2 linked regions of the Homo sapiens genome follow. The protein of the gene in region 1 interacts with the protein of each later gene in a pairwise test. Each region holds a gene or a part of one and is shown on either strand. Other genes may lie near its edges.

Region 1 (4,007 bases):
AAGCAATAAAATAGAACATCGACAAACTTCTATTCCATTATCTACCCAACTACTTGTATCTGTATCCATGGTCTCTGCTTATGAAAGTTCCCGTTTTTATAAGTAAACTGTTCCTGCTCCTAATTAAGACCAACCTCTCCTCATTTTGCCCTAGATTCCATCTCCTCTTTCCTACTCGATATATTGCCCCATGTATTCTTCCCTTTTTTGCCCCTCATACCAATTTAAATCTTTTTTCATTGGATCATTCCCACCCATTTAACAAACGTTTGTTATTTTTCCCATCTTAAAAAACGAAACATTGACCGGGCATGGTGGCTCACACCTGTAATCCCAGCACTTTGGGCGGCCGAGGTGGGCGGATCACCTGAGGTCGGGAATTCAAGACTAGCCTGACCAACATGGAGAAACCCCGTCTCCACTAAAAATACAAAATTAGCCGGGCATGGTGGCGCATGCCTGTAATCCCAGCTACTCGGGAGGCTGAGGCAGGAGAATCACTTGAACCTGGGAGACGGAGGTTGTGGTGAGCCGAGATCGCACCATTGCACTCCAGCCTGAGCAACAAAGAGTGAAAAACTCCATCTCAAAAAAAAAAAAAAAAGTAACATAACTAGACATACCTTCCCAACTTCAGCTTCCAACTACCACTTCACTCCTTTGCTGCCCCTTGTAGGAGAACTCCTCAGAAACTAATCCCATATCCAATTTCTGGCAGATGGAAAATAGCTGAAATCATGCTTCTCTGAAACGTGTGTGGCTTTTGTTATTACCTTTAGAAACCGTCACAGGAACGGGGAAAAAGTGCAGCTTGCCGGCCGAGGAGGATTCTGTGTTAGAAAAACTAGGGGAAAGGAAACCATGCAACAGTCAACCTTCTGAGCTTTCTTCAGAGACCTCAGGTAAGTTAGGAAAACAAAATGAACTCTTTGAAACAAATTAGGGGCGATAGAGTAGTGATGGTAGACATTGTCTCTAGTTCCCTGTTGTATGGTGGTAATCAGCAGTATAGTTTATGAAGTCAATTCTCTTAGACAGATTTTATCTGGTTTAGACAGAATGTCAGCTTGTTATATCTTTAAAAATTACTACTACAGCAAATCAGGATACCTAATTTTTTTTTTCTCCACTGTTTTTTTTGTTGTTGTTGTCGTTGTTTTTTTTTTTTTGAGACAGAGTCTCACTCTGTCGCCCAGGCTGGCGTGCAATGGCGTGATCTTGGCTCACTGCATCCTCCACCTACTGGGTTCAAGCGATTCTCCTGCCTCAGCCTCCTGAGTAGCTGGGATTACAGGCGCCTGCCACCATGCCCGGCTAATTTTTAGTAGAGATGAGGTTTCACCATGTTGGCCAGGCTGGTCTCAAACTCCTGACCTCTGGTGATCTGCCCACCTCAGCCTCCCAAAGTGTTGGGATTACAGGCGTGAGCGACCGTGCCTGGCCTTCTCCACTGTTTTCATAGTGAAGAAAGGACACCCAAATTTTGATCTGGTTCAGCTATTCACTATTCTATCCTGTGTGGTCTTAAGCAAGTTACATAACTTGCCTATATCTCAGTTTACTTAGCTATAATATAAATTAATTGGTCAAATGTTCTCTAAAGTCTTACTAGTTACAGTGTTCCATGGCCCAACAGCATCTACATTACCTGAGAGGCTGGTAGAAATGCAGAATCTTGGGCTCTACCTTAGGCCTTTGTAATTATTATCTGCATTTTAATTAGATCCCCAGATAATTCTAATTTTCATTAAACTTTGAGAGGTACTGCTCTAAGATACTTTCCAATTTAAAGTTTGATTATTCAGTGAATTTGAAGATTACCTGTTTTTAATAACCCAGAAGCATATGTATATGATTATCAACTTGATTTTCTGTTTACTTTTCTGTGACTATGATTGGAATGTGGACATCCTGACATATGGGACATAAGGGCCCATGACTTATTTCACTTAGAATCTCTAATGCTTTGCACACTACCTAGCACAAGACTAGAGCTTAAATAAATGTGTGATTTTTTTTTTAAATGTTGTTTTACTGACTCAACAAATCAGTAAAGATTTATCAAGTGCTTATGGTATACAAAATACACCATGTTAAGGCATATAGATATTTAAGTCCCCGTCCTTGCCCCCTGAATTATTATATTATAACCTGAATGAAGAGATAAGTTCTCAGGCATGAACTCTGAAACCCAAGATTTACATAATAATTGAATAAAATAGTATAAAAGATGGCACTGAATAGCTGCTGATTAATTGCTGAATTAAATGTTATAAATACTGGGGGATACTATAGCCTAGCAATTTTTTGAGCGATGCAATAATTAACCTGAGATATTAAACAAAGGCTAGGATTTAGAGGATATTGGAGGGGTAAGGACAAGAATGAAATCCACTATTTACATATTATAATATTCTTGGAAATCAATTTATTGGGTCAGACTTGACAGGAGCTGGCATATACCTGCTCTTAATGAGACTCTTGCCAGGATCTTGGATCCATATTATATTAACTGGGAGGAAGGTTAGACCAGATCACCTGCTGAAACTCTTCCAAAGGTACTCATCTTAATTGTTAAAATTAATTATCCTACTTAACATTATATATATTTCTCTGTCTTTTGGGAAGTACATTTAGGAGCAGAATGTTGAAATTTAACATATTTGTCTTTCAAAGTAGGATGCTCTGGTTCTGGAATCATGAGAATTTTTCTCTGACCAAAATGTGGATTCAGTATATTTTGTGTGTGTGCGTGAAGTGACTTAAGTCTGGCCTTCTGATCTAGTTCCCAGAATCTGTCTGGTTTGTTTGACAAGTATTAGTTTAATATTGGTGACCTAGTCTTAGAATTATAAATTTTGTCCAAAATCATGTATATTTAACTGAAGCAATTAATAAATTTCACCAAAAAGAGGCAAGCACTAAGAATGACCAATATAAATCAGATGAGATTTACAGGCAGTAAGTGCTTATTTTTAGAGGTTAAAAGATGTGAAATGTTTCATTTTTAAAAGTTCAATCCTGCTACTTCTGAAATTTCAAATATTTTATAAATGTTTGAAAACAATCTTTACCTGAGATGATGATCTGTTAAATATTTTTGCTAGCGCCAGTTAAAAGTGAGAAATGTTTTAGAAAAGACTGTTTTCCTGAGCAAATTACAGTAAGTACTATATGTATTAGTGAAAATAGCCTCCTTAAATTAGTCATTTATATGGTCTGGTTTTTTTGTTTGTTTGTTTGTTTTTTGTTGTTTTTAAGAAACAATAACGAGGAGTTTTTTGTTTGGAATTTTAGCCAACTTCATGTATTGCGGTACCCCTCCCACACAAGCCAAACAAGTTTGCAGACCCAGTGACCGCAGGTCAACCCGGCCCAAGCCTGCCAGGGTCCCTCCTGAGCTGCTGGGAGGCTCTCCTCCATGGAAGACTCTTGATCACAGGCTGGGCCACTGCTCTTTGTCTGAGTCAGGTTGGGTCTCTGGTTCATCCTCCTGTGGTGGGCCTGGGAACCAAAGAAAAAGTATTCATGTTGACTCACTTGAACCCCAGAGGGATCTTGGCAGGGAGGCCTGGGATATAGAAAGCACACCAATAATGATGAAGAAAAAGAAGAAGAAACCAAAGCAAAAGAGATATTCTCAACCACGGGCTGGAGGACCTTCGGATGATGACAATGCAGATAAGCCTAAAGGTCATCCATTTGCAGCTGACACACAAAAATCAGGTGTTCTCCCCAGCCAGCCTACCACTATGGGTACAGAATATGGACTTGTATCTGGAGAAAACTTGAAAAGGGAATGTTTAGTTAACTCCAGTGCAGCCAGACTGGTAGCTGAGAACTTTGTCTCAGAGAGTCTCAGAATTCCTTTATATCCTTCTGAAGAAGCCCCCAAAACTGCAATAAGTTCTCAGTCTAAGCTGAGAGTAGAGGAAGAGAGCAAAAGTAACAAGTCAGTACTACAAAACCAAGACAAGAAATTGCTGAAGCAACATGAATACAAACCA
Region 2 (4,007 bases), on another chromosome or scaffold:
GGAGGCTGAGGCGGGAGCATTGCTTGAACCCGGGAGGCGGAGGTTGTGGTGAGCTGAGATCGTGCCATTGCACTCCAGCCTGGGCAATAAGAGCACAACTCCGTCTCAAAAAAAAAAATTATATTGGATGCATATAATTCATGCTTTGATGAGAATGCTTTAGGAAGTTTTTTGAAGTTTTTTGTTTTTTTGTTTTTTTTGAGACGGAGTTTCACTCTTGTTGCCCAGGCTGGAGTGCAATGGCGCGATCTTGGCTCACCACAACCTCTGCCTCCCAGGATCAAGCAATTCTCCTGCCTCAGCCTCCCGAGTAGCTGGGATTACCAGCATGCACCACCACGCCCAGCTAATTTTGTATGTTTAGTAGTGACAGGGTTTCTCCATGTTGAGGCTGGTCTCGAACTCCTGACCTCAGGTGATCTGCCCGCCTCAGCCTCCCAAAGTGCTGGGATTACAGGCGTGAGCCACTGCACCTGGCCTTGAAGTTTTTTTTAAACTTCCATTTACAGTGAGGAAAACATTTTATGTATAACCCATGTACACATACAAATTCATGTTTATGTATTTAAAATTTATTTTGAGGCAGGGTCTTGCTCTGTCACCCAGGCTGGGGTGCAGTGGCAGGATCATGGCTCATTGCAGCCTTGGCCTCCTGGGTCAAGTGATCCTCCCACCTCCTCCCGAGTAGCTGGGACTACAGGCTCAAGCCACCATGCCTGGCTAATTATTTATTTATTTGTATTTGTATTTATTTATTTTTTGAGATGGAGTCTCACTCTGTTGCCCAGGCTGGAGTGCAGTGGTGTGATCTCGGCTCACTGCAACCTCCGCCTCCTGGGTTCAAACGATTTTCCTGCCTCAGCCTCCCAAGTAGCTGGGATTACAGGCGTGAGCCACCATGCCTGGCCTAAATTTTTTTTTTTTTTTTTAAGAGGCAGAGTCTCACTATGTTGCCTAGGCTGGTCTCAAACTCCTGGCCTCAAGGTGCTGGGATTACAGCCATGAGGTACGGTGTTCTGCCCACTTATGTGTTTAGAGCGATTCAAAAGGAAAACACTTCCAAAAAGTTATTGCTCATTAACAGGGTTATATATATATAAATGTAAAGACATTGTGTAAAGGAACTGTTGTGATTAATTCTAGGATATTATAAAAATTCAGCCTGTGGCCGAGAGCAGTGGCTCACGCCTGTAACCCCAGCTACTTGGAAGGCTGAGGCAGGACAATCAGTTGAACCTAGGAGCAGAGGTTGCAATGAGCTGCGGTCGCGCCACTGCAGTGCAGCCTGGGCGACAGGGCAAGACTCCGTCTCAAAAAAAAGAAAAAAAGAAAAAAAGAAATTCCACCTGTGTCCTTGTGTCACGTGGCACACAGCATAAGATTTTAGTCTTGCTCATACCAGACTTCCTTCAGCTGCTCTTCCATGTGGTAGCCATTAGTACGTATAACCATTTCACATGAGATGTAACTGATAGGACTGAGGAAGTGAATTTTAACTTACTTGAATTTTAATGGTTATATTGTACAGTGTAGCTGTGTAGCATAGCATTTTGTGTCACTTCATTTTCTCAAGGTTTGGAGAAAGATTTTTGATGTACATACCAAATGTCTATATAAAACCTAAGTACTGAGCAATATATTTTTTCTAACTTTATTGGGTGTACTTTACATACTGTATAACTCACCTATAGGTTTTAGTTACAATCCAGTTTTATAGTACACTTTGTTGCAAAAAGTTCTCATGCCCATTTTCAAGTTAGTCCTGCTCTAGACAACCACTGTTCAGCTTTCTTTTTGCATAATTTTTTCTAGAAGTTTCATGTAAGTGGAGTAGTATTTTAGTCTTTTGTGTTTGGCTTTTTTCACTTAGTGTAATGCTTCTGAAGCTAACCGAAGAGCTTTTTCACATTTGTTGCGTGTATGGATTTGTTTCTTTTTGAGCAGTGCACATTTTAAACTAATTATCAGTTTTATCCTGTATTTAAACAAGTTTCATAAAATATTAACTTGCTCATATTGTCTGTGGAAGTGAAACTTAAAAGTTAGCATCAAATAATTTACACAAAACATAGAGGTTGGGTGCAGTGGCTCACGCCTGTCACCCTAACACTTTGGGAGGGTGAAGCAGGAGGATTGTTTGAGCCCAGGAGTTGCAGACCAGCCTGGGCAACATGGCGGAAAAAAAATTAGCTGGGCACAGTGGTGCTTGCCTGTAGTCCCAGCTGCTGCAGGAGGCTGAGGTGGGAGGGAGGTCACGGCTGCAGTGAGCTGTGATTGAGCCTCTGCACTTTAGCCTGGACAACAGAGTGAGACCTCATCTCAAAACAAAACAAAAACCACACAAAGTCTCAAGCAATCAATTAAAAATGAAAATGAGGAGGCTGGACATGGTGGCTCACACCTGTAATCCCAGCACTTTGGAAGGCTGGGGTGGGCAGATCATGAGGTCAGGAGTTTGAAACCAGCCTGGCCAACATAGTGAAACCCCGTCTCTACTAAAAATACAAAAATTAGCCGGGCATGGTGGTGTGTGTCGCCAAATCTGTAGTCCCAGCTGAGGCAGGAGGATCGCTTGAACCAGGGAGGTGGAGGTTGCAGTGAGAAGACCGCGCCTCTGCACTCCCCAGCCTGCGTGACAGGGCGAGACACTGTCTCAAAAAAAAACAAAAAAAGTGATTAAAATTCTTAATTCCATATACCCTCACCAATATTCTGTATCAGCTGCCCAAGTATTAGATAGGATGGGCTCAATCCTAAAAGGCACAACCCCCATATTTAACATCCCTAAAATTGGGATGTCTTACAATTGATGACAGGTCAATTGGGAGTGTAAAAGAATAACATAAGCTGGGTGTGGTGGCTCACGCCTGTCATCCCAGTACTTTGGGAGGCTGAGGCAGGTAGATTGCCAGACCTCAGGAGTTCGAGACCAGCCTGGGCAACAGGGTGCAACCCCGACTTTACTAAAATACAAAAAAAAAAAAAAAAATTAGCCAGGCATGGCAGCATGTGCCTGTAATCCCAGCTACTTGGGAGGCTGAGGCAGGAGAGTTGCTTTAACCAGGGAGGTGGAGGTTGTAGTGAGCTGAGATCACGCCACTGCGGTCCAGCCTGGCCGACAGAGCGCAAGACTCCGTCTCAAAAATAAAAAAAAAAAGAATAGCATGTTAAATTTTGTGAAATAGAGTATGCACAGATATTATGCATATATTTTTATTTAAAAAACCAGCTGGATCAGGCGCCATGGTTCCTTCCTGCACTCCCAGCACTTTGAGAGGCCAAGGCAAGAGGATCACTTGAGTCCAGAAGTTAGAGATCAGCCTGGGCAACAAAGCAAGCCCCTGTCTCTACAAAAAGATTTTTAAAAGAGCTAGATGTCGCAGTGTGCACCTATAGTCCTAGCTACTTGGGAGGCCGAGGCAGAAGAATCGCTTGAGGCCAGGAGTTTGAAGCTGTAGTGACATAGGACCACACCACTCCACTCCAGCCTGGACAACAAAGCGAGACCCTGTCTCTGGAAAAACAACACAGCTAGTAAATTTAAAACTATACTTTGCTAATAAGCATTATTTATCAAGTCCATAATATAGCACATCTACACATTAAGACGCAGTTCTAGTCTGGTTATATATTATTTTCAGTAAGAGAAACACAATGTTGCAAGTTGTATAAAACTTAGATGAGTGACAAGATGATTTTAGGGGTTTGTTCTGATGTATAATTTTTTTTTTTTTTTTTTTTTTGAGACGGAGTCTTGCTGTCGCCCAGGCTGGAGTGCAGTGGCGCGATCTCAGCTCACTGCAGGCTCCGCCCCCTGGGGTTCACGCCATTCTGTTGCCTCAGCCTCCCGAGTAGCTGGAACTACAGGCGCCTTCCACCTCGCCCAGCTAATTTTTTTGTATTTTTAGTTAGAGGCGGGGTTTCACCGTGTTAGCTAGGATGGTCTCGATCTCCTGACCTCGTGATTCGCCCGCCTCAGCCTCCCAGAGTGCTGGGATTACAGGCAT

Evidence for each region.
Region 2: the proteins of MAP4 (region 1) and NOP58 interact in a two-hybrid assay, tested with the Homo sapiens proteins (one large-scale study listed by BioGRID).

Annotation. Positions count from the first base shown.
Region 1 is NC_000003.12:47,911,712-47,915,718, reverse strand, and holds part of MAP4 (microtubule-associated protein 4), read left to right. Parts: intron 1-779; coding exon 780-902; intron 903-3,297; coding exon 3,298-4,007. UniProt on the Homo sapiens protein: Non-neuronal microtubule-associated protein. Promotes microtubule assembly.
Region 2 is NC_000002.12:202,268,429-202,272,435, forward strand, and holds part of NOP58 (nucleolar protein 58), read left to right. Parts: intron 1-4,007. UniProt on the Homo sapiens protein: Required for the biogenesis of box C/D snoRNAs such as U3, U8 and U14 snoRNAs. Part of the small subunit (SSU) processome, first precursor of the small eukaryotic ribosomal subunit.